Linked DNA regions of Homo sapiens: regions 2, 3, 4, 5, 6 and 7 are each reported to be linked to region 1. Evidence: microRNA targets listed by miRTarBase, many of them from high-throughput screens and not tested one by one. Region 1 holds a microRNA gene; each other region holds the end of a gene's coding sequence.
What was found. Region 1 holds the annotated microRNA hsa-miR-122-5p (UGGAGUGUGACAAUGGUGUUUG, at 1,384-1,405, opposite strand). A microRNA usually pairs through its seed, bases 2 to 8, with sites in the 3' UTR of a target mRNA and lowers its output. Matches are read on the target gene's strand: a 7mer-m8 pairs with bases 2 to 8, a 7mer-A1 pairs with bases 2 to 7 and ends in A, and an 8mer does both.

Region 1 (4,483 bases):
CAAGGGACTCAGAATTATTTCGCAAAGTTTTGCTCATTTGGCTCCCGTTTGGAACAATTACAATGGTCCCAAAATATAATGCGAGCCAGTGAATGCCCATCTCTGGAAATAACATCAGACACATTTAATTTAAAAGTGTCTTCAATGCCTAGGACAGTGTCAGGCACACGGTAGTCTCTACACATATTTATTTCATAAGTGAATGGTTGAATGGTTGAATTTGTTTCTGATGGTTGATCTAACCCTGTCTATTTGATTAAACATGTCCTACTTCATTTAACCAAGCCTGGGGAGGGAAGCTTTAGTCTGGCACAAACGAAACCTACTCCTGACTTTAGACACCTCTCAGAGACAGAATGGGTTCCAAACCAGAGCACCTGGCTGGGCCAACTGTCCTAGAAACTGCATGGGTCCCAGATTTGCTATGGCAGCTCACACATGCTTCATAAACAATTTTCTGATGGTAATTCACTGATGCAAGAGGAAGAAAGGCCTAGTGTACGAATTCAGTAATCAGCCTAGTAATTGATTGAAATCAGTAGAAATCAAACATATTCTAGAATTTCTGAAACGTCAGTGAAACCATGTGTAAGTTTATTAGAAAGTTGGATTTTTTAACGACGAAAAGAGAAGGACCCACACACCTTAATTTTGTACCTATAAGCTTGCGGTCTGTCTGCATAACATAGATTTAGCCCAGTCTTAGCCTTCTGCGTCTAACACTTTCCTAACTATTCATTTTAAGTCTATAAGCATGGGTTAAATGATTACCTCGTGCCTGGCCTTGTGTTGGGGGCTCTGAGGAACTCTGCAATCTTTTTATTTTCATTTTTTGAGACAGGATCTTGCTCTGTCACACAGGCTGGAGTGCAGTGGTACCATCACAGCTCACTACAGCCTCAACCTCGTGGGCTCAATTGATCCTCCCACCTCAGCCTCTCAAGTAGCTGAGATTACAGGCACATGCCACCATGCCTGGCTAATTTTTGTAGTTTTTGTAGAGACACGGTTTCACCATGCTGCCCAGGCTGGACTTGAACTCCTGAGCTCAAGTGATCCGCCTGCCTTGGCCTCCCAAAGTGCTGGGATTTCAGGCGTGAGCCACCGTGCCTGGTCTGCAATCTTTTTATTGACTTGGGAAAACAAGAAAATTAATCACCAGCTAAGGTATGTAACAACAGCATGTGAGAGGCAGGGTTCAGCTAACCATATTGGTTATGAGTGCAAAAGAGCCAGACTTTATTCAGTAAGTACACAAGATTGAGAAGACTGATATCAGATGAACCTTCTTGCTCAAAGCAAACGATGCCAAGACATTTATCGAGGGAAGGATTGCCTAGCAGTAGCTATTTAGTGTGATAATGGCGTTTGATAGTTTAGACACAAACACCATTGTCACACTCCACAGCTCTGCTAAGGAAACTCTGTAGCCACGAAGGTGTTAACTTCACCTCCACATTCCACCATTGTCACTGATAATAGGGGAACCTTGTCAGCTCCACATATTGTGACCTAAGCAGAGAAAAGAAGCATCACGGGTACAAGCATCTTGAGCAATGGGAAGAGCTGAACACTCTCAATGAAAGGCTTCTGTGTTCTGGAACAGTAGAGTAGTAGAGGGGTCCACTGCCTGTGTTCCACTGCCACCCAGCAAACCCCTTCTGCAAAAACTTCCTGTGAAAATGGACAGGAACTCTGTTTGCAACAATTTTCTAAAATGGCTGAGAGAGAAAGAATCTCTAGAGGGAATAGATTTCTGGAAATAAATACTTATTGGAAGACTACATTATAAATGAGAATAATCTGGCCGAATGAATGGATACTCTCCAACTCTCACCTCTTCACCTACTTCCCAATCCATCATCAGTAAATGTGATCAATTCTGCAGTCTAGGAAAATTAAAATTATTTTATATGGGGATACAGCAGTTAGATGTGTTGTGATCTACTCTCCGTGGCATCTATTGGATATAAAGGCATCTGGTCTTGCTCAAATGTTCAATCTTCTTGACCACAGTCATTTTCCACCATGGCGGTGGGTGGGAGATGAGGGGAGAGAAGAAAGAGAGGAAGATGGAGAGAGAGGAAACGAGTCCATTTTTAGTTCATGATACTCATTTTCTAGCAAAAAGGGAGCTCCAAATAAATCCCTACAGGATTTACTTGGCTTTCCTGTTAAAGATGGTTTATAATTGTTATGTGAACTCCTGCCCACCATGGAGAATGAGAGGAAATAAAGCATTTTACCTACTCCTTCTTTTCCTGCAAATGCTGAAAAGGGAAAGGGTTGGGAGCCAGTTATTTTTTCCCCAGGATAACTGAGTTGTTAACATCTGACCAGAGTCTTGCTTTAGCCCTAAAACCGGCCCATCTTTAACAGCTGTAAATGAACCCTTCCGTATTTTTCAGAAAAAAAAAAAAAAAATTGCGCCTTATTCTCATGTAGATCCTGAAATCACCCTCTTCAAGCTGGACTTGCAGTGATTATCCCCCTGCGAAAGCTGAAAGTCGTTCTGCTCCCATGGGTTGGAGTGTTGAAGTTGCCTCTTTTTTTCTTTCCCTTTTTCACTTTGTGGATTCGTTATCTTCCCCTAAGTGACTGATTTCCTTTGGTTCCTGTCTGTGGCCCTGGCTTTCTTTCATGAAATGTGGTCATTTGCAAGGCAGCAGGCCGTGCCAGTGCTACACATACTCTCTTAGGTGGGACTCGCCTCCTGGGCAGTTTTCCATGACTCAGAGAGAATGACTACGAACCCTAGAACTGCTCTAGGTGGCCCCAGTCACTGCCACAAACCCCTAGCACTCTGGGTGTGGCCAGCAGTGGACACAGGCATGTGGTGGCCCATCTTGTCCTTCCCTTTCCCTACAGCTCCTCCTAACACAGTAGCCAGGCTTGTCCTGCTTAGTCTTTGCTGAGGGACCTAGAACAGAAATCGCCACCTCCTGGTCATACCAGGGCTATCGCTGACCATCCACAAGAGGCTCTAGAAGTCTCTTAGCTCTGCTGGGAAGAAACAGTGAGAGGTGAACAATTCACTGATTAAAAGGGTCCCCGGAGGATGCGCTTGGAGCGCTCTATCCTGGGCAAGGGCTTGGACCCATTTCACTTCTCAGGGCTCCATAGCAGTATCTGAGCATCCTCCACTTCTCCATGGGGGCTCTGTTGGCTTTTGGCTTTGAATAATCTGCAAAATACAGAAAAGGGAAGGAACAGATGGAAGATGAAAAGAGATGAGGAAGTTAATGCATTACAGGTAAATCTTACCAACTCCCCACCCCCCAAATCAACCTTTACAGGTAAATCTTACCAACTCCCCCCACCCCAAATCAACCTCAATTTCTATGGCCCAGAAATCTATCTCCAGGAAAATGTCAAAAATTTGTAGAAAGATTTACCTATAAGGTTGCTCATAGTGGCATTGTTTATAAGGGTAAACATTGGAAACAACCTAAATGTCCAGCTATAGGAGAAGAGTAATATATTTATGATAGACCATAATTATTTAAATTGATTCTGTAGAAAAGTCTGGTAGACTTGGAAATTCAAGATATGTTATTGAATTAAAAAACAGTTTATAAAACAATATACACAGTATGAGTCCCTTTCTGTGAAAAAATGCATACATGCCTGAGGCCAAAACATCAAATGTTAACCATGGTTATCTTTCAGTAGAGAAATTATGGTTTGTTTTCATTTTCTCCTTTTGTGTGCATTTGTTAATTTATGATTCATATGGCACTTTTTTATTGAGAAAAATGAGGATTTAAAAACTTTTAGGCAATTTTCTTTCTGGACTCTCAATACAAATTCCTTCTTGCAAAATACTCTTCTGAAATTGGGAAGGTTGGAACCCATCCTGCTCATATACAACTTGTCACAAGCATGAAAAGTTAGTGCTGTGCTGAGTGGCAGGCCTCAGGCTAATTTTTTAGCAAATTATTAGTGAAATACTTTATTATGCAGTACAATAATTTTATGGTATTATTGCATCAATCACTAAACACATATTGAGTGCCAATCATTTTCTGTCTTGTGAGCAATTTTTAAACATTGCTAAAATGGCCAACATCTTTTATTACTACTTTGTTTCTGCAGAGGTGGTTAAACTGTCAATTTACAAAGCAGTTTAAACAAACAAGCAGAAGGTTTTCTTTTTTTAAAAAAAAAAAGTCATCCAATAATATATCGCTAGTAAAATAAATTAAAAGTGGTTAGTGTCAGGATCCACTTTTGAATATTTTAAACATTCACAAAATAATTTCTCATTCTGCAGATTTTTAATGTTCTAGTATTTTCAAACTTAACAACTGAACTTAAATAGTACGAGCTAATAACAAATAGAAACATTATACACTGGTTGGGAAGTATTAACACGTTATTTCCTTTGAAAAAATAATGCTTAAGGCAAAGATGTTTGATATTAAGCAGGGTGACTTGTCCAAATGCCAGCACAATTTTCTACAGTGTGGAAAAGGCCTTGAGG
Region 2 (4,483 bases), not on the chromosome of region 1:
AGCAAGTTAATCTCTTCTATTGTAAATAAAGTAAATCCATAGATTTACTTTACTGCCATCTAGCTGTGCAGAGGTAGGATAAAAATCTATGGATTTCTCTTTTTATTATAGGTATAGACTTACTTTATCTATAATAGAAAGAGATTAAATATCAAATTTAAATTTCTAATTGTTCTTTGATAATTAGTATTTATATTCAGTGAATAAATGGTGATAGATAGATTGGTATGAATTGGTTACTAGCGTTAACTCCTATATACACAGTAATTTTGCTGAGTATCATTAATAGTATAACAGTAGCTTTTTCACTAGCAAACTAACAGACTAGTGTTATGTTGATTACATAGTACGATTTAAAGTTCATAAAGTACAAGTCCTTCTTAATATTACAATTTAAAAACTAGATTAGATAGATATATTCTGAGTCTAATCAGAAGAATGAGCCTGTTTGTTGTTGTTGTTGTTTTCATGTAACTTCTGCTTCTAATAGGGACTTGTGATTTTGAACACTCACTGATGAATTTCAGTTTAGTTTGAATTCCAAAAGTGAAGGTGGAGGAAAAGTAGCTTGATTTTTGAGTGAAAAGAGGATAAATTTGGATAGCACCAAATTTAATGGTGAGAATTATCACTCTTTTAATTAAATGCGGTGTGCTTGGCTTTTTTATTTTAACTTCCAAATTAAGGAAGTAATCTTTAAAGTTCTTACTAGTTCTGACAGTCTGCACATTTTCTTTGGGTTTTATAGTAGTAAACTTTCTACTGAGGATAGTGCATTTTGTACATAATTCTTCTACTCATCATTACTTCTCTCACTATTCATAATAAATTCATGTATTTTCTCCTTATAGGCAGGAATAATATATTTTTAACTGTTTTTCTTCTACTGGAAACCTCTGGACCCAATTAGCTTCTATTGATAGTGATTCTTCCATTAATATCTTTGACAGAGAAAATCCATGGTGTATAATTCTTATTTCCAGAGCTTGGGTTGTCTTAGAAAGTAGCTTCTTGGGATTATGTTTGATAATAATTGCTGTGATGATCATGATTAACCAGAACATCTGAGGTCAACTCATCAGTATAAAGCCTTTCTGTAAATGCTTTACAGAAGCATTGGACAGCGATTAGATTGAGGAAAAGATCAGATATGGTTGAGTTTTGTCTTCTTTGGAGTCCTTATTATTAGTACCTGAGTGCTTCACTGCCATCTAGCTGTGTGGAGGTGGAAGAAAACTGCATCTGATCCCATGGCAGGAAACTATGTGTTTGTGGAGATGAAAGAGAAGAGAAACTATAACTTGATGAAATGTTTATTGCCAATTTTTATGAAGTACAATTTTCTGGATCCTATATCCAGAAGGCCATGACAATAAATTTAAATATAATTGTACAGAATTCCAGTAGTGACACAAAAAGATGCAAATATTCTGAATATTCATGTGGGAAACTATGACAACATTCTTTGTTCAGGATGGGATGTGTTATAATGTTTCTAGAGACGTTTTGGCTCCTAAACCACGTCATTTAGCTCCTTGGATAGGTTTGTCAATAATTAATTAAAACAAAATCTGGAAAATCCAAATTTTGAAATTCGGAAATTTTTTTAAAACCTAATTTTATTCCCAACCACACAAATCTCTCTTTATTATATAGTTCTGAATATAGCCCCAAATGGTGTTTATCTTTTTCTTCCATTCACTATTTTCTTTCTTTCTTTTTTTCAAGGTGGAGTCTTGCTCAGTCACCCAGGCTGGAGTGCAGTGGTGCGATCTCGGCTCACTGCAACCTCTGCCTCCCGGGTTCAACCAATTCTCCTGCCTCAGCCTCCTGAGTAGCTAGGATTACAGGTGCCCGCTACTGCACCCAGCTAATTTTTGTATTTTTAGTAGAGACGGGATTTCACTATGTTGGCCAGGCTGGTCTCGAACTCCTGACTTCGTGATCCACCCATCTTGGCCTCCCAAAGTGCTGGGATTACAGGCGTGAGCCACCGCGCCCGGCCTCATTCACTATTTTCTAACCAAGGAGTTCAATGAATGTGGAGCCTTACAAAAACACCTGGCACCAAACAAAAGTAATATAGTACAGAACTATAGTTAAAATGAAAGAACAGACATATACCCTTACTACCAAAAGAGGAGATCATGTTAAATACCTTAATTTCATGTATGTGTCTCATTTCTTCTCTGGGTTAGTTCTTATCTTGGGCTAGTTTATGTTGGCTTCTTATTCAAAGTAATAACTCCTTTGTTCTTGGACATATTCATAGAGTGGGGTGTTGCTATCTAAGCAGAAGGAACCAGAGCCTGTTCTTTCCTTTGTATGGTAACCGCTGGCCTCAGAGCCTCTTTGTTTTTTGCCCACATCCTCACCGTATATTCTGATACCTCCTGACAGACTTGACTCTGACTCTTGCCTTTGTCTCCCCCACTGCATATGGTTGCACTGCTTGATGAATATCTATACCTATACTCTTCAATTCCTGCAGGGTCTTGGCTGTCAAGAAAGTGACTGAAAATGTATCTTTGACTTTTGCTGTCATTTGACTACTCATAACTATCATTTGATTGGCCATGGCTGTATACTTGTCTTTCATTGGTACTGAATCCAGACTGACCCTAGGCATCTCTTGATGGCCCATGACTTAATACCTATCTGGCAAAACCTGTGCTGGATCTTACCTGCCCATGAAAAGTTGTATCTCCGAAATGTTGCTGGCTAGATCCATGTATACCTATTGTATTGAACTCTAACTTCCCATGCCTAGATCCTAATTGCTCATGAGTGTCTTTCTCCCAATCTTCTGAATGCTTTTTGTTATCAGTATGGGATTCCTGTTTTCTGATTGAACTAGATTTTGAATGGCCATGAACTGATATGGATTGTCCATGGCCAAATCCAAGGTGGTCATTTGACTGGCTATGTGTACATCCCTCCCTTCTGGCTGTGTTATATCCAGGTTGAACATAGGTGTTGTTTGACTGTTTATGAGTTACTATAGAATGTCCATGACTAGATTCCTGACTTCTTATAATAATAGGTCGAGACTGATACTGAGAATCAACTGAATGTTCATAACTTACCATTGACTGTTCATGATTTAAACTGTGTCTTCCTGTTCTTTTAGTTGCTTTGGATACTATAAGGTCAGAACTAGAAAATAACTGTCAATGTCTAGACAGTTGCTTGTTTGCAGTGCTGTCTGTTGACCATGAAAGGTGAGAATTACTGATGCTTTTTCTGCTGCCACCAGAAGGCCCATACCCAGTGTGCCCATAGTCATATTCTGCAGGTCCATAGCTGCCATGTTTCCAAACCTGACTTGATCCATGCCTTTGCCTTTCACTACTATGTGACTGAAAATGACTTGCTCTACTAGATCTGGAACCTGTCTGTGTGGATTGTCCATAACCAGAATGGCCATGTCTAGTGGTATCTCCTGTCTGTCCATGAGTAGTTTCCAGTCTCCCATGAACTGTGGATCCTGGCTGTCTTTGTTGAGATCCAGCTTGGCCCTGAATGTGTCCTGAATGTGTGTGTGAGCCCCATGAGTGCACTTCACTGTCACTGGACTCACTGTGGCCAGATCCCCTTCTTCCAGTTGTCCTGGACCCTCTCTGTGTGGATTGTCCATAACCATAGTGGGCATGTCTAGTGGTATCTCCTGTCTGTCCATGAGTAGTTCCCTGTCTCCCATGACCTGAGGATCCTGACTGTCCATGTCGAGATCCGGCTTGGCTGTGAGTGTGTCCTGAATGTGTGGGTGAGGCCTCTGAGTGCACTTCACTATCACTGGACTCACTGTGACTAGATCTTTGTCTTCCAGTTGTCCTGGAACCTGTCTGTGTGGACTGTCCATGACCAGACTGGCCATGTCTAGTGGTATCTCCTGTCTGTCCATGTATAGTTCCCTGTCTCCCGTGAATGGCAGATCCTGACTCTCCATGTTGAGATCTGGCTTGGCCATAAGTGTGTCCTGAATGTGTGTGTGAGACCCCTGAGTGCACTTCACTGTCACTGGACTCACTGTGGCCAGATCCCCTTCTTCCAGCTGTCCTTGACCCTCTCTGTGTGGACTGTCCATGACCAGAGTGAGCATGTCTAGTGGTATCTCCTGTCTGTCCATGAGTAGTTCCGTGTCTCTCATGAACTGAGGATCCTGACTCTCCATGTTGAGATCCGGCTTGGCCATGAGCGTGTCCTGAATGTGTGTGTGAGACCCCTGAGTGCCCTTCACTGTCACTGTACTCACTGTGGCCAGATGCCCTTCTTCCAGTTGTCCTGGACCCTCTCTGTGTGGACTGTCCATGACCAGAGTGGCCATGTCTAGTGGTATCTGCTGTTTGTCCATGAGTAGTTCCGTGTCTCTCATGAACTGAGGATCCTGACTCTGGATAGTGAGATCCAGCTTGACCGTGAGTGTGTCCTGAATGTGTGTGTGAGACCCCTGAGGGCCCTTCACTGTCACTGTACTCACTGT
Region 3 (4,483 bases), not on the chromosome of region 1:
GCCAGTCTCTGGTTCCCCCAGCACCCCACGCTCCTCGGGCCCTGTGACAGCCACCAGCTCCCTGTACATCCCAGCCCCTAGTCGGCCTGTCACCCCAGGTGGAGCTCCAGAGCCCCCCGCTCCTCCTAGCGCAGCTGCCATGACCTCCACCGCTTCTATCTTCCTATCTGCGCCTTTGCGACCCTCTGCGCGCCCAGAGGCGCCTGCCCCAGGCCCAGGGGCTCCTGAGCCCCCCAGCGCTCGCGAGCAGCGCATCTCTGTGCCAGCTGCCCGCACGGGTATCCTGCAGGAGGCCCGGCGCCGGGGGACCCGGAAGCAGATGTTCCGGCCGGGAAAGGAGGAGACGAAGAACTCGCCCAACCCCGAGCTGCTATCGCTGGTACAGAACCTGGATGAAAAGCCTCGGGCCGGGGGTGCAGAATCTGGTCCTGAAGAAGATGCTCTGAGCCTCGGGGCTGAAGCCTGCAACTTCATGCAGCCAGTAGGGGCCAGGAGTTACAAGACCCTGCCTCACGTGACACCTAAGACCCCCCCTCCAATGGCTCCCAAGACCCCGCCCCCTATGACTCCTAAGACTCCACCCCCAGTGGCTCCTAAGCCCCCATCTCGAGGGCTCCTTGATGGGCTCGTGAATGGGGCAGCCTCTTCGGCTGGAATCCCTGAGCCACCAAGGCTGCAGGGCAGGGGTGGGGAGCTGTTTGCTAAGCGGCAGAGCCGTGCGGACAGGTATGTGGTGGAAGGTACACCTGGTCCTGGTCTTGGCCCTCGGCCTAGAAGTCCTTCTCCTACCCCGTCTCTGCCCCCTTCCTGGAAATATTCACCCAACATCCGTGCCCCGCCTCCTATTGCTTACAACCCACTGCTCTCTCCCTTTTTCCCCCAGGCGGCCCGAACTCTCCCTAAGGCCCAATCCCAGGGGCCTCGGGCAACACCCAAGCAGGGCATCAAGGCTCTAGATTTTATGCGGCATCAGCCCTATCAACTTAAAACTGCCATGTTCTGTTTTGATGAGGTTCCCCCGACTCCTGGCCCTATCGCCTCAGGGTCCCCCAAAACTGCCCGAGTCCAGGAGATTCGCCGGTTTTCCACTCCGGCACCCCAGCCCACTGCAGAACCCCTGGCTCCCACTGTGCTTGCCCCCCGAGCAGCCACTACACTGGATGAGCCCATCTGGAGAACAGAACTGGCCTCAGCCCCTGTTCCTAGCCCAGCCCCTCCTCCAGAGGCTCCCAGGGGCCTTGGGGCTTCTCCCAGCTCCTGCGGTTTCCAGGTAGCCAGGCCCCGATTTTCAGCCACCAGAACAGGATTGCAAGCTCATGTGTGGAGGCCTGGGGCAGGGCACCAGTGAACAGGCACAGGTCCCAGGACCAAGGAGAGGTGGAACATCCAGTTCCTAAAGTTGCTTCTCCTACCCTATCCCATCCCCTGTCACGCATCTGGAAGCTAAATTGCCTCCTGCCAGAGATGGTTTCCAAGTTGATGTCCCCTTCCCCCACCTTCCTCCTCACTCTCTACCTCCCTGCCGCTTTCCAACCAAGTATGTCTGCTTTGGTATCTTTGCCTCTCTTTGTCTCTGCATTTCCTTTCCTGGATCTCTGTCTTTATTTCCAGGCTTCTCCACCCATATTCCTCCACAGATCTCTCTTCCTTGACATTTGTGCTTTTCTCCCTGGGCCTCATTTTAATGTTCAGTGAGAAGTAAACAGAGCAGAAGTGACCACTGGGACTTCAGGCAAGAAGCTCACCACCAGGCACACAGCAAAGGGACTGAACTGACCCCTGTTTGCACTAAGCCACCCCCACCCCCCACTCTGCTTTCCCAAGCTTGACTGGCATATACCTAGGCCTGTGTGTGTGTGTGTGTGTGTGTGTGTGTGTGTGTGTGTGCTCTTCCGTCTAAGGCATGAATAAGAGGGGAGGTCAAAATAAAGACCCAATCTGAGGCCGGGCACGGTGGCTCACGCCGGTAATCCCAGCACTTTGGGAGGCCGAGGCGGGCGGATCACGAGGTCAGGAGATCGAGACCATCCTGGCTAACACGGTGAAACCCCATTTCCACTAAAAATACAAAAAATTAGCTGGGCGTGGTGGCGAGCGCCTGTAGTCCCAGCTACTCGGGAGGCTGAGGCAGGAGAATGGCATGAACCTGGAAGGCGGAGCTTGCAGTGAGCTGAGATTGCGCCACTGCACTCCAGCCTGGGCGACGGAGCGAGACTCTGTCTCAAAACAAACAAACAAACAAAAGACCCAATCTGAGTCTTATCGTTGTACTGATAGAAGGGTCAGATATCCCCACATGGAGTTGAGTGGGAGAAAGAGATTCACTAGAGAATAACTCCTTAGAGACCAATGTCTGTAGCAGGTGTACAGCATCTTGTGAAAGTTATGGAGCATGAAAAGACTGAAGGGCCAGGACAGTTTGCATGGGCTGAGTTATACCAGCTAGACCAGGAATAGAACAAAGAATTCTATACCTCAGGATTTCAAAAAGTTAGCAACTTGAGAGGCCAGTGCTGAGCAACCCAGTACCCAGGAAATGAAAAAAAGAAAGAAAATTCCCTCCGAGAATGAACAAATCATTGGCTTCATTGCCTCATGAGCTTGAGAGAAAGGAGAAGAGAGCCAGAGTGTGGCAAGTGAGGCCAAAATCAGAAGCATGGCAGAAATGAGTGTAAGTGATTGAGCCACAGACAGAAGTGTGGCGAGGGACAATGCCATATTGGGAGAAGGTAAAGTTGAGTAACAAGAAACCAACCGTGTGTGAGAGGGGGATTGGAAAAAAATTTGAGGGAGAAGAATGTTAGAATGGAAGGGAATGATGGTGGAAGGGAGGTGTGAGGGTGTGTGCTGAGTGTTGAAAGAACGGTTGGTGTCTGTGTGATTTTCCTTGAGTCTGTTCTTCAGTGTGTCTTCTGCAGCTTGCCATGACTGCCTGGGAAAGAGTAGGGAAATACCCAGAGCCAAAACCTCCTTTCAGTCCCACCCCATCCCTCAAAACCCCAGCTATTGCTTCTTTTCAGCTTCAGGTCCTGATCTCCAATCTTAGTATGGACTCCCTTCTCACCAAGACCACCACCAGCTACGTTTGCTGTGTAATCTGGAAAGTGATAATTTCCTTTGCTTGTTGGGTGTGAGTCACAATACTTTGGTTTGTGCACAAGAATAAATTTATGCCCCATACCTTCTGTTGCTGTTATCTTCTAGTTTTATTCCTAAATCCTGATCTCTCCTTAATCTTCTTTAACCCATTCCCCTGATCTGATTTCTGATCTGTCTCTTTTCCTGCCCTCCCATTTTTCATCCTTTTGCCCTTTGTTCCCAGGTCTTTTGCTCTTTTATACAAATTCTGTCCTGCTTTGATTTAGCCACCTCCATCACTCTTCTTGGTTCCCTCTCCCCACAGTCTTCATCCAAGTTCTCCCCTTTCCCTCCCTTGCCTCATACTTTCTAGGTAAGGCTTCAGTTCACAGAACTCAGAGAAGTTGGAAAGGCCCTCTGAGCCCTTTGCTATCAACATTTCCTCGCTCCTTAGAGGAAGCAACCATATTAAACAGTCTCTGGGAAGTAAATGAAGAGAAAGCAATGGCTGGAGGGCTGGAGGGGAAGGTGGGATGGGAGAGGGAAGAATAAAGCTGAATTGAGACTACTAAAGAAGGGAGGGCGTTGGAGGTAGGTGAGAATTAGACTTCAGAGAAGGAAAGTGCCATTGCTCTGATTCTGCCAGCAGAGGGCACATTTGTGCCAATAATCAGACCCAGGCCGCAGACTCTTCCAAGTGCACTGTCTTAGAATTCCAAAAAAAGATCTCAGAGACCATAGGTTAAATAGCCTGTCTTCACCCACTCAGTCGTTTTGGGTACTCAGTTGAAGGAGATCAAACTTTCAGTTTGTTTTTGTTTTTGAGGGTGAGGGTGGTAGTGATGATGAAGTCACCTTTAGCTATTTATAGTTCTTCTTTTTTTTTGAGATGGAGTCTCCCTCTGTGGCTCAGGCTGGAGTGCAGTGGTGCGATCTCAGCTCACTGCAACCTCTGCCTCCTGGGTTCAAGTGATTCTCCTGCCTCAGCCTCCCAAGTAGCTGGGATTACAGGCACGCACCGCCATGCCTGACTAGTTTTTGTATTTTTAGTAGAGACTGGGTTTCACCATGTTGGCCAGGCTGGTCTTGAACTCCTGACCTCAAGTGATCCACCCACCTCGGCCTCCCAAAGTGCTGTGATTACAGGCATGAGCCACCACGCCCGGCCTATTTTATCTTCTAATTGCTTCCTTGGGTTGGGAGGGGATGGAGGAGGACAAAAGATGAGGGGTCTGGAGGCATAACTAGCCTGGGCAGAAGCCAACTGTGAGGGGATACCTTTTAGGGTCTCCACAGGATGGAAAAAGGACATGGTCAGGAAGAGTAAAGAGCTCAGAAGGGGACAAAGGAAGTTACAAAAGCCACTTCCTGGTGCGTGCCTGTAGTCCCAGCTACTCAGAGGCTG
Region 4 (4,483 bases), not on the chromosome of region 1:
TCCTTTCCCCAGTTTATGCTTTTGTATGCTTTCTCAAAGATCAATTGGTTGTGGGTATCTGGCTTTATTTCTTGGTTCTCTCTTCTGTTCCACTGGTCTATGTGTCTATTTTTATAGCAGCACCATGCTGTTTTTGTTACTGTAGGCTTGTAGTATAATTTGAAGTCCAGTAATGTGATGCCTCCAGATTTGTTCTTTTTGGTTAGAATTGCTTTGGGCATTGAGGCTCTTTGTGGGTTCCATATTAATTTTAGGATTTTTTTTTCTAATTCTGTAAAAAATGATGACAGTATTTTAATAGGAATTGCATTGAATCTGTAGATTGCTTTGGGCAGTATGATCATTTTCATGATATTGATTCTTCCACTGATTCATCCCATACTCATCAATCCATGAATATGGGATGTATTTCCATTTGTTTCTGTCATCTATGATTTCTTTCAGCAGTGTTTTGTAGTTCTCCTTATAGAGATCTTTCACCTCCTTGGTTAAGTACATTCCCAGGTATTTTATGTTATTTTTTGCAGCTGTTGTAAAAGGGGTTAATTTGATTCTCAGCCTGGTTGCTGCTGGCATGTAGCAGTGCTACTAATTTGTGTGCATTGATTTTGTAACCTGAGACTTTCCTGAACTCATATGTCAAATCTAGGAGTCTTTTGGAGGCGTCTTTAGGGTTTTCTAGGTATTTGATCCTATCATGGGCAAACAGACACACCGTGACTTCCTCTTTTTCGATTTGGATGCCCTTTCTTTCTTTCTCTTGCCTGATTGCTCTGGCTAGGACTTCCCTTGTCCATAGTTTCTGCCTCAGCAGAAAGAGGATCAGGAGGCCGGCCGTGCCCAGCACAATAGGGCGATTATGAGGCTCGGGGGACGCCCCGAGTGTGCAGAAGGCGGAGCTGGCTGCAGCCCAGGCTCCTGAGTGTGGAGAAGCGGAGGAGGCTGTGGCCCTGACTCAGGGGCCAGGACCCTCCTGCCTCCCCAGCAGCTTCCCAAACCCCGAAGTGGTTAGAGCGGGGCCTGGCCACCGGCTGCCGGGCCGCACGGGCAGGAGGGGCCGGGAAGGTCTTCCCCTTTGACCCTCACTGCTTTTCTCCCCAGGAAACCTGTGGTATCGCCAAGGGATCACGCCCAGCTACCCGCAGGGCTCCAGCTGGGAGCACGTGTCCAACAACGTGTGCCGAGTGTCCGTGGGGCCCCTGGACCAGGTGGGGGTGCTCAGGGGGTATCGGGCACTTGGGGTGCTCTGGTTCCCTCTCTGGTCTCCCCCATCCCATGCCCAGCCGTCCCACTGCAGGTAGGGCTGAGGGCTTCATGGGGTCTGTGCTCCAGGTCTGGGTGATCGCCAACAAAGTGCAGGGCAGCCACAGCCTGAGCCGGGGGACAGTGTGTCATCGCACCGGCGTGCAGCCTCACGAGCCCAAGGGCCACGGCTGGGACTACGGCATCGGGGTGAGCGGGGCCCGCGGCCTTGGGCTGTGTTATCACCTTGTGCCTGCACTGGGTGCTGAAGACGGGACGACCACTGTGGGACTGTCCCCTGGGACCCGGTGTCTGGGTTGCAGGGAGGCCCCCAGGCAGATCCCCTCCAGGATCCTCGAGTCCCCGAGTCCCCTGGTGACACAGCTCTCTCCTTCCAGGGAGGCTGGGACCATATCTCTGTCCGGGCCAATGCCACCAGGGCCCCCCGGAGCTCGTCCCAGGAGCAGGAGCCGAGTGCCCCACCAGAGGCCCATGGCCCCGTCTGCTGCTGAGGCCCCCCCACACACCTACATGCAGGGACGGTGCCCAGTTTGGGGGATCAAGGCTGAGCCATTCTTGTGCTGGAGTGTGCACCGTGGGAGCAATGTGGCCCAGGTGGACTCAGGAGGGAACCTGGCCCCAAGGCTGCGGCCACTTCAGAGGCACTGGCTGAGACGGCCCTGAAATGTGAAGCTCCGCGGACACTCCCACACGTGTCCCCGTCTGCGAGGAGTCCCGGGGTGTGGGGCATGGGGTGGGGCTGCACCTCCCAGAGGCCCCTCCCACCCTTCCCTTCCCCTCTCCCTTCTGCCTTTCCAGGACTAGAACCGGGAACCTGGAGCCCTCCGGGAACGCCGGCCCTGGGGCAGCAGAGCCAGGATGGAGCCCTCCTGAGCTGGCATCTCAGACAGCACCCGGGCCCGCCACCCCTCACCAAGAGAGATGGCCATGGGGCTCAGGGCCTCTTTACCATGTGCAGTGACCATTTCTCAGAGCAGGACTTGCAAAGAGGCTTTAATTTCAAAAGTGAAGGAAGGAGGCCAGGCGCCGTGGCTCACGCCTGTAATCCCAGCACTTTGGGAGGCTGAGGTGGGCAGATCACCTAGGTCAAGAGTTTCAAACCAGACGGGCCAACATGGTGAAACCCCATCTCTGCTAAAAATACAAAAAAAAAAAAATTAGCTGGGCATGGTGGTGGGTGCCTGTAATCCCAGCTACTCGGGAGGCTGAGGCAGGAGAATCGTTTGAACCCGGGAGGCGGAGGCTGCAGTGAGCCGAGATCATGCCACTGCACTCCAGCCTGGGCGACAGAGACTCCATCTCAAAAAAAAAAAAAAAAAAAAGTGAAGGAAGGAGACAGCAGATTGGAAATAACACTGGAGTGGATGGGATGTCCTCTTCCCTGAGGGGGCCGGGGTACCAGACGGGAGGCTGGGAGAGGATGAGAGGCTGCCCCATGGCTGGAGGCAGTGTCCGTGTGTGCAGTCACCATCATCAACCCCCATTCGGCCCCTTCCCCAGATGCGCTGGTGACAGGGGCTTCTTGGATGTCAAATCATGTTGTAGGAGGGTGCAGACTGCGGGCTTCTGTGGGGAGCAGTACTACTGTGTCTGTCGGCAGTGGCCATGGGACCCTCAGCCCGTCCTGTACATGGAGCAGGGTGCACAGTCACCCTCCATCCTGTGGCGAGAGGCTGGCCCGGCCCGGCCAGGCGAGGCAGAAGGTGTCGGCCAAGTGGCCCCGACCCCATCCCGCAGTCTCTCAGCTGCTTTTTATTACCTCTGTGCCCCATTTGGGAGTTTGCTTCCTCCACCTGGACACTTTGCCCGGGAGGTCATCAGAGCCCAACCCCAGGCTCTGCTCGGTTGGAGAGGGGATGACTTCACCACCACCTGACCTTCCTAGGGTCCTGGTCTCACTGTCAGCTGGGGGTCCGTTGTGTGTATTTGTACAGTTTTGCTGTATGGGGTTTGTCACCCAAAAGCTGATGCTGAGAAAGGCCTCCCTGGGGCCCCTCCCGCGGGCATCTGAGAGACCTGGTGTTCCAGTGTTTCTGGAAATGGGTCCCAGTGCCGCCGGCTGTGAAGCTCTCAGATCAATCACGGGAAGGGCCTGGCGGTGGTGGCCACCTGGAACCACCCTGTCCTGTCTGTTTACATTTCACTATCAGGTTTTCTCTGGGCATTACGATTTGTTCCCCTACAACAGTGACCTGTGCATTCTGCTGTGGCCTGCTGTGTCTGCAGGTGGCTCTCAGCGAGGTACGGGGAGGGCGTCACCCTGCAGAACGGCAGAGTGACGCGTCCTCTCGCTGCTGAGCACCAGCTGTTTACCTGCCCTGCATCACTTCCTCGGATACTTTACTCAATAAGCATTTCCCCTGGAGTGTCCGTGCCCTGGTGTTTTTTATCGATACGTTGATTAAAACGCGTGGTTCCCCGTGTGCCTGAAGCAGACATTGCTGTGAAATCTTTTATTTTTGTTTTATGACACAGCATCAATTTCATGAATACTTTGAAAGGGCCATTAGAAAAAATAAGAGCCAATTTGGGTCATTTGAGAAACATTTTCAGCACAATTACAGTGGGGGCACGGGCCGTTCGGCTCCAGCTGGGTTTTCCCAGATGCAACAATCGCGGTTCTGGCTTCTCCACTGGTGGGGATGGGGATCGCGCCTTCGGAGCTCTCAGGGCGCCTGTCTGTCGGGGGCTGGGTGCGTCCACAGCCCCGGGGGATGGCGCGTGGCGTAGCCCAGGAACGGCATGTGGGTGGGTCTCTGACCTGCTTGTGCAGGGACTTGAGGGACCTCATCCCGATGGCCGAGGCAGGGGCTCCCCACGGGATAAAAGGATCCGGCCTGGCCTTGGGGTCCAAGAGGAGGGCCAAGGGAGTGGACCTGGCCCCTGTCCCCTCTCCTCCTCGAAACACTGGACACCCTGAAGCGAGACTATGGCTGCTGAGGATCCTGTGTGATGTGGCCGCGGGGCGTCCCCTCTGGCCTCAGGGGAAGAAGGACTGGGCGGCTCGGCCCAGGTCACCCTCTAGGAAGCAGAGGAGGTGCAGGTGCCAGTTCAGGGCAGAAAGAAAGAGCCACTGAGGCCATTGTCCTGAAGGCGGTGACCCCCAGGCACTCCTGCTGCCCCCCAGGAAGCCCTGGGCTGCGCTGGACACCGGGCCGAGTCTCCGTCTTCTGGACCGAGGCTCTTCTGGGCTTTCAGGCTCAGCTCGTCGGTCCATTCA
Region 5 (4,483 bases), not on the chromosome of region 1:
TCTCATCTCTTTTTTTCCCCCCCAAGCACTGGAGAGGGGTCTCCTGAAAACCCTGCAGAAACTGGATGAATATCTGAATTCTCCTCTCCCTGATGAAATTGATGAAAATAGTATGGAGGACATAAAGTTTTCTACACGTAAATTTCTGGATGGCAATGAAATGACATTAGCTGATTGCAACCTGCTGCCCAAACTGCATATTGTCAAGGTAGGTCTGTAGGGGTTGATGTCGCATTGCCATTACCTTGTATTGTATTTACTAAAGTGGCATTTCCTTTGTGCTCAAAACATTTCTGATTTTATATGACTAGTTGTTTAACTCAATGCTGTTTAGGCAATAGTTGAAGCACCCTAGAGTTAGTTAAATGGAAAATTATGTCTTAAAATTGAGGAATATAAGAAAGATGAATATTTTTTTTTCTGTGACTGCATACAAATTCAAAGATATAATGCGTGACTTTGAATTGGAGTTTGCCACACTGACTTATGTTATCAAATTCTGTTCTGTGATCACACCTTGCTTTCTCTATTGAAGGCAAAAAGTATTGAGCATTTATTATATGAGACACTGGGCTGGGCACATTGTTAAATAGAATAATAATAAGCGCTAGTTGTAAATAAAGACCTAAGATAACAAAAACAGATCTAAAATAGCATATGTGTGTTGTGAAGTATTTTCCAGTGATTATACTTGGCTGTCTTTCTGGATGTCCAAGGCAGTTATTTGCAGTCACTGTCACACTTCTAAATCCCTGGTGTAGCTTGCAGTCTTGGTCATTATTTAAAACTCTGGTTAGAATGATGGTGATGGACTTTTTTTCATATAGAAGCAGTTCTCAAAGATTTAGAGCATTAATTATTTGCTCCAAAATCAGAGATATGTCTAGTTTACAAGACGTGGAAATAAGTCTGTTAACTTTTGATCTCTTTGTATTTCAGGTGGTGGCCAAAAAATATCGCAACTTTGATATTCCAAAAGAAATGACTGGCATCTGGAGATACCTAACTAATGCATACAGTAGGGACGAGTTCACCAATACCTGTCCCAGTGATAAGGAGGTTGAAATAGCATATAGTGATGTAGCCAAAAGACTCACCAAGTAAAATCGCGTTTGTAAAAGAGATGTCTTCATGTCTTCCCCTAAGAATACGCTTTTCCTAACAGGCTACTCCTTCCTGTAGAGCAGAAATTGTATTTTGCACGAACATGCAGTTATTGAAGATTAGGATCAAGGATAGACAAGGTATAGTAGTTATCTTAAAATATACACTCCTAAGCAGTATTATTTTAAAATCCTTTACCCTGGCTACCTCCCCTACCCGGGTTCCCCTCTCTTTAATTTGGAGACACTCCACCACAAACTTTTCACTTTAGAGGTAGCTTGCCATCTCTCAGGAGCCCTCACCATTGTGTCCATTCACTGTGTATAGATGGCAGAACTTTTGAGGTGCAATGTTTAATTGTTAAAAATAGTAGCCACGACTTTATCAGGCAGCCCCAAACTGGTGCATAATGCATGGTACAAGAAATATTTATGTATTTTTTGGAATTTTGTAATATTTAGTAAGAGTATATGAAAGGATTGCTACTGTATCAGAAATATTGTTTCAATTTAGTCTATCCTGGATATGTACTAACGAATATTACCACCAGAGAAGAGAGCTTTCTACAAAAGTCACTACAGATTTTGCTATATTGCTTTGTAGATAGATTTTTACTTTTGCCTAAAAGCATTTATCCTTCATACCAATTGTAACATCTGACACCATGTAGAAGCTAAAAGTTTAGAGGGAGTGAGGGTTTTCTCAAGACCTTCCTCAAGCATTTTATCTTTAGAAGAGAAACTGATGGGCACCTGATACTCTGTCTAAATACGTTTGTTATATGTGTTTTGCCCTGTGCCATTCATTTGGAACTTTATTGCATTCTTTATTTTAAAAAGCTTGTTTTTACGTAATCATAGAGCTTGCTATTTGTACATCTGTTGAGCAACACTACATAACTGATTTTTAGTTGACTTAGCTATAGCAGTACAATGATTAGTAATGTAAAAATTAACACAGAAATTAACCTAAGGAATGAAGGGTGGGTTTGTCAAAATATCAAGTAAATTTTTGTTTCTAAAGTACATTTAATGTAGATGACCTAAAGAATGCGTTATCCATCCTATATAAAAGAAAGATAAAACACAGGTCACCAATTTTCTCATTTCACCCCATTTACCTTGTATAGAGGATTGTTCATTCCTTTGGGACTAAGTTATAGTTATGGTGAGTGTGTATTTACTGTAGTTTTGCCTGATCTCACTCATTGCACTTCCTGGAGTTAAATTTTCCAACAGCCATGTTGAGGAATAGCACTCTGCATGTTTTTGTTTTGTTTTTCGGGGTTTTTTTTAATTGAAGCCCTAAACCAGGAATTATTTGTGTTCTAACAGGAGGATGAACTTGCTGAAAATAAAACTTTGCTATGTATTTACTCTTTTTTAAAAGACAAAAGCAAAACCAGACTTTCTACGTACTACTCCAAAGACTGTGATTGTGACTATAATACATTTTTGGTAATTTTTTTATACCTAATTTGTATAGGAAGTGCTATTTCTCATAGGCTGTTTCTTGAAATTTTAAGTTTATTGCTTTAAAATGGCAGTGTTTCTCCCACTTTGATATGCTAACATTTAGTAAGCACTGGCTTTATGAAAGCGGCTTTTTATAAGTATACTGCATTTTTTGAGCCTATCATTAATTAGCTTAGTATGAAAGATAAGAAAATCTCCATGTTGTATCCATTTGGCTCAGGAAGATTCTTTGCCTTACCTTTCTTAGAACTCTTTATTGCTTATCAAAAGTTTGAGTACCCGCTTGGTTTTTTTTTGGTAATTAAATATTGTATGATTTATCTGGTTCAAGGAAGATGCACTATTCAGTTATCTATTGAGAAATTATTTTGCAGTGGTTTTAGTGGGTGAAAATGTCCCATCTGCACCAGTACACAGGCAGGCATTATCATTCTTCACCTACTTTTTAAATAGTGGCAACTTGGGATTCATTCTGGTGATTCTGAACCTTGCCTCATAGCTTAAAGTATAAAAAAGATTCAAGAGCAGTGAGGTTTGTTCTTTCCAGTGAATGGTGGACTGAGTGGTGCGAGGTGGAGGGCTAACAAGAGGAAAGAACTACATTCTTCAGAATACAGTGATGAAAATTCATTTTGAAACTCAAATATTTTCATTTTGGATATTCTCCTGTTTTTATTAAACCAGTGATTACACCTGGCCATCCCTCTAAATGTTCTAGGAAGGCATGTCTATTGTGATTTTGATGAAGACAGAATTATTTTTCTCTGTAGAAACACAGATACCACTTTATCAGGGAAGTTAGTCAAATGAAATGGAAATTGGTAAATGGACAAAAGCTAGCTAGTAAAAAGGACGACCCAGCAACATGCTTTAACCCCATTGTATGTTTGTGGAAAGAGCATAGTTTAACATCTTGAGAAATTTGGGACATAAAGTTTTCATGGTAGACAGTTCATGCAGTATATGAATTGCCATAATGGAAATAATCTGATTTTATTTTTACAACTAACATCCATTCCCCTTCATTTAAACACCTTTTGTGTTTTACTTCAGTGAGGAGATTGGAGTCTGAATGGATCTGTTTTCCAAGAGATTCTGAGAAATTTTTGTATTCAGCAGTTGGAAAGCTCTCTATTCTAGTTGATAAAACTTCCCTTTTTTGATGTAGATGCAGATATTCTATACAGTTCTGTTGTCTTTTACTAGGACTGTAAACTTTTGTGATAAAATTCAAATAAGATTTTATTTCTTGGTAATTTTGGCTTTCACAATTTATCTTTAAATCCTTGAGCAATCTGTATACAATTAAGAGATTTCTGACATTTATTCTTACACTAAATGGATCAACTCTAGGATTTAGGCATGTTAACTTCTGTTGTGTTTTGAATCTCTCCAGAGTTGCATGTAGATAGCATTTATTTCTGTGCCCTTAAACCCATTTAGAAAATAACTACAAAGTAAAAATGTAGAGGAAATAGAAATGTATTTTTTCATGAACATTTTGATACAAATTTCATCATTTAATGATTCACCAATTTCTTGCATTAATTTGAATTTAAGCATTTAATTCAAAGAGAGGGGAGCATCCATTATTGATACATGTGGGCTTTTAAAAACTCCATCCTTTATAAATAGTCAAGGTTTGGGCCACACAAAGTATATTTTTATCATGGAAAAATTTCAACTCCTCAAGCCGTAATGTTGAACAGAATTGGAGTATTTTCTTTATAATTTCTTGAACAGGCAAATGAAAGCTTATTATAGAATGCATGTATTTTCTTTTATCTTTGGAACATCAGCACCAGTATATTGCTGGCAGCTATTGTATTAAAAAATAAAGTATATTTTCACTATCATAAAGGATTCTTTTTTCCCCCCTCATGAAAATAAACAACAACTTGGGG
Region 6 (3,000 bases), not on the chromosome of region 1:
CCAGACATTGCCATTGAAAAGTTGTGGCACACAGTGGCTATTGCCACCTGTGTCCCAAATGAAGTAAATTTCCAGGACTTTGTTACTGCAGATGATGATCTCATTATCTCTCAGGACACAGACATCATCCAGGACATGGTGGCTGGCGAAAATACCAGTGAAGCAGGAAGTGAAGATGAAGGGGAGGTATCTTTACCAGAGCAACCAAAAGTCACCATCACAGAAGCCATATCAAGTGTACAGAAACTTAGACAGTTCCTTTCCACTTGTGTAGACATTCCTGATGCCATTTTTGGACAATTAAATGGCATAGATGAATATTTAATGAAAAGAGTGACACAAACCCTTATTGATTCCAAAATTACAGATTTCCTCCAAACAAAATAATGCAGGAATTTATTTCAGAAAATGTAGTTTACAAGAATAAAGATTTCTTTAGATAGGTTGTTGAGCCAATTTAAGTAAAGCAATGTTATTGTGACAACATTCCAGTACTCTGAAATAGCCAGGAAACTTCTTTGAATGGAATTTGACTAATATGTGTGTTTTCTTTTCTTTTGTTTTTGGCTGTCTCTGGTCCTTGATTCAAGATGTATTTTGATTCATCCAAGGGTTTCCAAACTTGTCTGCAAATTAGGATCACTTGAGAATCCTTTAAAAATTCCAAAGCTCAGGCCATATCCCAGGCCTATTAAATCACAATCTTTGGTGACGGGTCACAGGCATTGGTAGTTTTGAAGCTCTCCAGGTGATTCCAATGTGCAGACAAATTTGAAAACTGAACCAACCACAGGAACATCAAGTACACTGTGGGCCTGGGTCCAGCTTCTTTCCAGTAAGTGTATCTCAGGGGCTTCCAAATTTAGCTTACATCAGAATCACTTGGAAGGCTTGTTAAAACCCAAGGCTGCTAGGCCCACCCCCAGAGTTTGATACAGTAGACCTCAGGTGGGACCCAAAAATTTGCATTTCTAACACATTCTCAGCTGATGCAGTCCAGGCTCCATGCTTTGAAAACCACTGGTCTAGCTTTAGATAGGATATTGAGCCAATTTAAATAAAGCAATATACTGGTCTAGCTGAGTTCTAGAACTTCTCTCTTTAGCTGGCCATCTGAATACTCCCCCATCACTAATTGTTAAAAAAAGAATCAACTGTTCTTACTCTAGAGCTCTTTTTTCCTTTCTGCTGATTTGCTGGAAGCACTACAAGACTTCTGTTTGTTCGTTCGTTTGTTTGTTTGTTTGTTTTTAAAGATGGGGTCTTGTTATATTGCCTAGGCTGGAATGCAGTGGTTATTCACAGGCATGATTATAACACACTACTCTCTCTAACTCCTGGCCTCAAGCCATCCTCCCAAATAGATGGGACTACTGATGCACACTGCCATGCTGGCCTTACGAAATGTTTTAATAGGCATTTCACTAATAGGGATCTGGAGTACAAGGAAATACAGTGCATTTAAGACATAGGCTGGGCATGGTGGCTCATGCCTGTAATCCCAGCACATTGGGAAGATCACTTGAGGCAAGGAGTTTGAGACCAGACTGGCCAACACAGCGAGACCCCCATCTCTAAAAAAAAAAAAATTAATAAGACATGGATACAACCAGGGAGGGAGGTTATAATAATAGAGCATCCTGTTAATCAGAATCATGGGGGAGAACATACAGCCCAGCGTGCCTCTCACTTTCCAGAAAGGGTGAGAGGATCATTAGAGAGTTCATTAGAGAGTATTTATTCCTAATAAGTCAGATAAATGTCAGTTTCATTTTTAGAAGTTTCACACAATACCTGCTAATGGTGTGATGTCATTTTTCCCCCTGCTTCAGGTTAATTTTTTGGATATTTCAGAAACCCATAGCAATTCAGTGATTTTTCTTTTTGTAGTAGCTCAGTCAAAACAGGTAACAGCAGATTAATCATAGAAAATGTTGCTTCCACATTAACAAAACAATCACTGAAAAACAGCAGATGTTTAAATAGATTATTTTATAGCTTATTTTGGATATTTTTTCTTTTAATAAACTAATATGATCATTTGAATTAAAAGTACTGTACATATTTTAAATTCTTAACATGTGGGAGAGGCAAACTCTTCTGGCTAAGTCCTGTGGTTGTATTTCTTTGTCAGCTCCTTAATTGCTGTCATCATCCTCTCGTGTCAGGATTACTGCCACAGTATCTAATTCCTTCCCTCACCTTTCTCCTGCAGTCCATTCTGCACATATTGTTTGATCTATTGGCATCACACCATTTCCCCTGCCCAAGTGTCTGTAGTGGCTTTCAAATGCCTACAAAAAAAACTATTCAGCTGAGTTTTAGTATCCTCTATAGTTGACTACAACCTGCATTTCCAACTTGTTAGCTCGATACAATTCTGTGTACATAATGCTCCCTGAAGAGGCCATTGTTTTCTTTTACTGCATACCGACTTCTGCCTGTGTGCCTTGCCCAAATGCCTCATCCTGTTTTCTACTAAGCTAGGCCCTACACATTCAGGAACTAACTGGAATCCTCTTTCTTCCAGGCTTTCTTGGAGACTCCAGCAACTACTCCACCTGTTTTCCCCTCATCTTCTCCAAACTTCTTGTCTGTACCACTCAAATACTTAGATGTTTTCTAGATGTTCTCTGGCTCTTTAGACTGTAAGTTCCATGACAGCAGGGATCAGTCAACCTTTATAATCTTAATGGTGCCTAGGACTGTGCTGGACACATCGTAGGCACTTCAAAAAACATTTGTGTATAAATTGATAGACACGTACAATGTGTTGAAGCCACCTTATTTTTAAAGCTGTATTAAGCATTGATTCTACTAGAAATGGCTTGGAGATAAGGTAGGGTTTTATTCCATTTAAAAGGGTTTGCAAAATTTTTCCATGAATATAGTTGCCTCAAATATAATTCCAATCCAGGTTATAATCTCTGTTCTTTGATAATGAATTATATATAATGTAATTTGATAAGTATATAGAATATATACTATTTATAGTTGAAC
Region 7 (4,483 bases), not on the chromosome of region 1:
GCATATTTCAAAACAATTAAAATAGCATTTTTACAAGTCTGGTCCTTTAAACATTGAGTAGCTGCCTGCTGTTGGAGGCTTTCAGGAAACACACACCACATCCAAGCATGCCATCCTGTTAATACGCAATACGTCTCTAAAGGTGCTCTTCAGGCATTCCTCCCTGAATATGTCTGAAACCTCACAAAAGAATAAAAAATAGAGGCAACCAAACCACTGTTGAGTCAGGAAACACAGCAGAGATTATATTCTGGTTAAAAATAGAATGACCTTCTCCACCATAAAGAGAAAATGAAATTAATTTAGTCAAGGAGACAAAGGTCACCGGATCCAGATGATTCAACTTTTAGAAAGGCCCAGCTGCCTTTGGCCTTTGAGTTGGGGACCCTACGTGTGGTGAGGGAATGAACAGCGCCAGTAGTGCCCTGGCCTTCTGTGGACGCACACCCGGCAGCAGTAGGCTCTGTGTGCCTTCGCACATGTGAGTTATGATGCAGCAATGCAGGAGAAGAATAAAGCAGCTGTCTGTTTCAGATGACAGGAATAGGCCACTGGACTCCATTCTCTCCCAGCTGCTGTTGGAATCCCGTTTGTAGGAGGCTATAGGGTGGTCTCACTGCACATGCGCAGGTTTCCTAAGTCTGGTGCCAAATGTTTTCTTGGTAAGAACTAAGTCCAGTGCTTTTATAAGAGAGCACAGATACTGTTGGACTGCAGGGTCACAGGTGCCCTTTAATCCTCCACACCTGGTCTAGTACCTAAGACGTGTTTTGTGAATAAATGACTAAATGTTTCTTATATTTAATTGTAAGAAAAAGCTTGAAATGAAGTAAAAGGAGCTTTGACTCCAGAAACATTGAAATGAAACAAAGGAGTTCAGCTCTTGATGAATTGGTTACCTCTTTTATCTTTCAGAGTCAGAGCTGACAAATTTGGCAGGATTATACAGAGATGAACGATTGAAACAGAAAGCAGAGTCGCTGAAACTTGAAAACTGTGAGAAACTTTCCAAACTCATTGGCCTACGCAGAGGTGGCTGAGAGGATAATGGTCCTACGCAGGGCTGGGGTTTTGCTACTTGTTCCTATTTATGTTCCTGATTCCATTTTATAATACAAAACTAGGTAATGATGAACACTTTACTATTTGCTAACTTCGTTGGTTGGGCAGAGTGGCAGGAGCATGGGCACGAGAGCCAGATGTGTCTTCACAGGATCCTTCCTGGGGAGTGGCTCCAGGGACCAGGAGTAGTTCATCTAAGTTAAATTAATGGCAAGGCATTGGATTCCGTCTCCCTGCTCCATGCCTACCCTGCCTATGTGAATGGAGTTCAGGGCATCCCAGAGCAGATCCATGCTTTCTTCCTTCTTCCCTTCTTCAGTGAAGTCTTAAGAACCAGGCATTCCTAGGCTTAGCCAAAGCTTAATATTAGTTATTTACACTGTCTACCAAGAATTATACCTCTCCCTTCATTAGAGTCATCATCTCCGCCAAGATTTAGCCTTTGGAACATGTTCCTGCCCAGCTTTCCATTTTCTAGGGGAATATGGAGAAATTTAAACTATTGTAGTCAATAGTTTTCTATTATTCCAATCTCTGCTCAGTTAGTAGCATTAGCAAACTGCCTAATTTGAGATTCCTTTATTTCCTTAACCCTCTCTCCTTTAGAGAGTCCAGAAATTAAAACTACTGAGCAGCATCTGGAGGCGGGGGCCAGGGCGAAGGTATAATGCAAGACCGAGCCTCATCTCCTCCACGAAGCCTCCCTACTCCATCATAGAACCCAGAGAATGTCCCTTCGGTCATTTCCCCTCAGTATCATCATTGGTGTCATCGCACTTAGGCTGAGTTCCTACATCCCACAGAGGCAGATGGTCAGACCCAGGAGGAGGCATTGCCAGCTCTCCAGGCTGTTTGCTCAAGCCTAGAGATAGAGGAGACAGATCCTCTCTCCTTGGATATGGGGGTCTAGCTTTGGCCCCAGCAGCCACTTTGTTTAACCCAGTATCCTATAGTTTGTGATTTGAGATGATTTTTCATTCATTCAACATTTATTGAGTGCCTACTATAAAAGCAGGGGCTCTCACACATATTTTCTTACTTAAACCTCCTCACAACTCTGAAGTAGATGTATTATCCCTGGTTCTATGAATGAGAACATTGGCCCAGAGAGGATGACCCAGGTCTTGTAGTGGCAGAGCAAGACGGTAGGCTGAGTGTCAAGTAGAAAGTGGGAGAGCATCCTCATGTCTCAGGTGATTCTAGCCAGACTGGCAAAGCAGAACCTTTCCCGAGGATGCCTCCGTCCTCCCCAACCCCATGACCCCTCATCTTTTCTGTGGCAATCTTGCATCTGTTCAGGACAACATCCCTGCTGCTCTTTAGGAAGCAGGACCCTGTCTAACATAAATTCTGTACACAAAATAAGAGGTCCCTCACAGGCAGGCAGCCCTCCACTGGTGACTAGGAAGAATTCAGTCACTGCCTGGGCTGTGTGGTTCTGGGCCTTCCTGTGGAGCTGAGCTGCCTGAATTATCATGACTCTGAACTTGGAAGGATCATTAAGTGACTGTAGCCTACACTCCATGCTTCCTTCATATTGGAAGAAAAGTTTCTGGTAGAGAGTCGGCCGGGTGCACTGGCTCAAGCCTGTAATCCCAGCACTTTGGGAGGCTGTGGCAGGTGGATCACCTGAGGTCAGGAGTTCAAGACCAGCCTGGCCAACACAGTGAAACCCCATCTCTACTAATAATACAAAAATTAGCCAGGTGTGGTGGCACATGCCTGTAGTCCCAGCTACTCGGGAGGCTGAGGCATGAGAATCGCTGCAACTTGCAAGGTGGAGGTTACAGTGAGCTGAAATCACGCCACTGCACTCCACTCCATCTCAAAAAAAAAAAGAGTCTACATTAAACAGATTCCAAAGTAAAGTTTCTTCATCCCAATGCATGGCCATGATTTACACAGACGTGCCTAGCATGGCTCATCAACATCTGAACGGTTGTTCCCTACCATGCCTCTGCAGGCATTCCACAGAGTCAGGAGATGGGTTCACAGGTAAAGATTGGGGGCTTTAGTGGCTTGTAGGGGACAACTGCTCAGTTGCAGGGAGAGGGAGCATTTCTAGAAATAGCCAGATTTTGCTGCCCAACTAGATCTGTCCTCCTGGTTTTAGGGGGCCCTTCTTGATCCCCTCTGAGTGACTGAGGGAGGTTACATTGTAAAATATGTCCATGAGCCAAACAGGCTTATGGAAAGTTCTTCTACACACAAAAAAATCAAAGCTCTCCTCTCCCCATCCCCAACCACTGCTAGAAAATTGGCCATAATGAAACTGACTTGACAGGTTAAAAGACCCTGTCCTAGATGCCCAGGAATCAGGTAGTCACACATTTTATGGACTTCATGGCAGCGATAAGTAATCTGTGATGATACTAAATAGAAGCAATAATAACTAACTCCATTAAATGTCACGCTGATTGTCTGTTTTTATAGCACCGATGGTACTGTTTTATTTATTGCCAATAGACCACAACATTCACATCTGTTTTTCCTCAAGGGAACCGTATTTGCTTTTGGTTGAAGGATTTATCTATTTGATACTATCCAGAATATTGTGAAGCTATAATTTCCTGGGTTATATTTTAGATGGGTTGTCTGCATGGTGGTAAAATAAGCTTTTTCCTCTCGCCTACGTCCTTTGGAAGATCTCCTGATCATACATAACTAGGTAGGGCTTATTCTTGCTGCCGGAGCTTGGCACCCAGCTCTAGACTGTTTCTTTGAGCATTACTGCAGATTGGAGACGTGTGTGAGAGGAGCAGCGCTCAGAAATAGGGCTTGAGGCTCAAGCAGAAACTGAAGCTCTCATTCAAATGAAGATGCTCTCTCTACCGCACGATCGGCAGTGAGAAAAGGAGGATGAAAATCCTTCTCATCACAAAGAGCTTGAAGGAACCCACGTCCCCAGATTAGCAACCCTAGAGTTCATCTGCTCAGGCCGGGAAATGTGTAAGCTTCCTTGATCAGCTCCAGGCCTCACAGCACGGGAGCAGTGACCAGTAAGGAAACGTCACTGCTGTGCTTTCTGTTGGAAATTGTTCGAAAATACAGTGAACTGGCCAGGCCCAGTAGCTCATGCCTGTAATCCCAGCACTTTGAAAGGCTGAGGCAGGCAGATCATTTGAGGTCAGGAGTTCCAGACCAGCCTGGCCAACATGGTGAAACCCTGTCTGTACTAAAAATACAAAAATTAGGCGGGCATGGTAGCACGTGTCTGTAATCCCAGCTCCTCAGGAGGCTGAGGCAGAAGAATCTCTTGAGCCTGGGAGGCAGAGGTTGCAGTAAGCTGAGATCACATCATTGCACTCCAGCCTGGGTGACAGAGCAAGACTCTGTCTCAAAAAAAAAAAAAGAAAGAAAAAAGAAAATACAGTGAACTCCAGATGCCACTGGAACATGGGTTCCAGCAGCCTGGCCAAGC

Region 2: the mRNA of FLG2 is a reported target of hsa-miR-122-5p. Seed matches in the 3' UTR shown: 7mer-A1 at 1,755-1,761.
Region 3: the mRNA of SYNPO2L is a reported target of hsa-miR-122-5p. Seed matches in the 3' UTR shown: 7mer-A1 at 2,188-2,194.
Region 4: the mRNA of TECPR1 is a reported target of hsa-miR-122-5p. Seed matches in the 3' UTR shown: 7mer-m8 at 1,944-1,950 and 7mer-A1 at 2,534-2,540.
Region 5: the mRNA of CLIC4 is a reported target of hsa-miR-122-5p. Seed matches in the 3' UTR shown: 7mer-m8 at 1,268-1,274 and 8mer at 1,348-1,355.
Region 6: miRTarBase lists TIGD6 as a target of hsa-miR-122-5p. The part of its 3' UTR that is shown has no 7-base or 8-base seed match.
Region 7: the mRNA of DNAJC18 is a reported target of hsa-miR-122-5p. Seed matches in the 3' UTR shown: 8mer at 2,579-2,586, 7mer-A1 at 2,874-2,880, 7mer-A1 at 2,879-2,885 and 7mer-A1 at 4,366-4,372.

The regions. Positions count from the first base shown.
Region 1 is chr18:58,448,010-58,452,492 of GRCh38, reverse strand. It overlaps MIR122 (microRNA 122), which reads right to left and starts at 1,419; the gene lies at 1,335-1,419. MIR122HG (MIR122 host gene) reads right to left here. Exons shown (of 3, transcript NR_170245.1): 2 at 2,953-3,184; 3 at 1,212-1,674. MIR3591 (microRNA 3591) reads left to right here and starts at 1,341; the gene lies at 1,341-1,413.
Region 2 is chr1:152,347,440-152,351,922 of GRCh38, forward strand. FLG2 (filaggrin 2) reads right to left here. Exons shown (of 3, transcript NM_001014342.3): 3 at 1,296-4,483. The coding sequence ends at 3,171. The region is part of intron 7 of CCDST (cervical cancer associated DHX9 suppressive transcript); the gene reads left to right. Among named protein-coding and RNA genes, the nearest start is that of FLG2, 10 kb to the right of the region's middle.
Region 3 is chr10:73,643,583-73,648,065 of GRCh38, reverse strand. SYNPO2L (synaptopodin 2 like) reads left to right here. Exons shown (of 4, transcript NM_001114133.3): 4 at 1-3,180. The coding sequence ends at 1,348. Among named protein-coding and RNA genes, the nearest start is that of MYOZ1, 4.4 kb to the right of the region's middle. RefSeq lists enhancers at 1-355, 3,919-3,968.
Region 4 is chr7:98,214,661-98,219,143 of GRCh38, reverse strand. It overlaps TECPR1 (tectonin beta-propeller repeat containing 1), which reads left to right. Exons shown (of 26, transcript NM_015395.3): 24 at 1,102-1,208; 25 at 1,333-1,452; 26 at 1,641-4,483. The coding sequence ends at 1,754. It overlaps BHLHA15 (basic helix-loop-helix family member a15), which reads right to left. Exons shown (of 2, transcript NM_177455.4): 2 at 3,687-4,483. Among named protein-coding and RNA genes, the nearest start is that of BHLHA15, 5.5 kb to the right of the region's middle. RefSeq lists an enhancer at 799-858.
Region 5 is chr1:24,839,834-24,844,316 of GRCh38, forward strand. CLIC4 (chloride intracellular channel 4) reads left to right here. Exons shown (of 6, transcript NM_013943.3): 5 at 27-208; 6 at 940-4,483. The coding sequence ends at 1,104. Among named protein-coding and RNA genes, the nearest start is that of MIR6731, 77 kb to the right of the region's middle.
Region 6 is chr5:149,992,170-149,995,169 of GRCh38, reverse strand. It overlaps TIGD6 (tigger transposable element derived 6), which reads left to right. Exons shown (of 2, transcript NM_030953.4): 2 at 1-2,052. The coding sequence ends at 387. Among named protein-coding and RNA genes, the nearest start is that of TIGD6, 7.0 kb to the left of the region's middle.
Region 7 is chr5:139,410,705-139,415,187 of GRCh38, reverse strand. It overlaps DNAJC18 (DnaJ heat shock protein family (Hsp40) member C18), which reads left to right. Exons shown (of 8, transcript NM_152686.4): 8 at 916-4,483. The coding sequence ends at 1,040. Among named protein-coding and RNA genes, the nearest start is that of SPATA24, 8.9 kb to the right of the region's middle.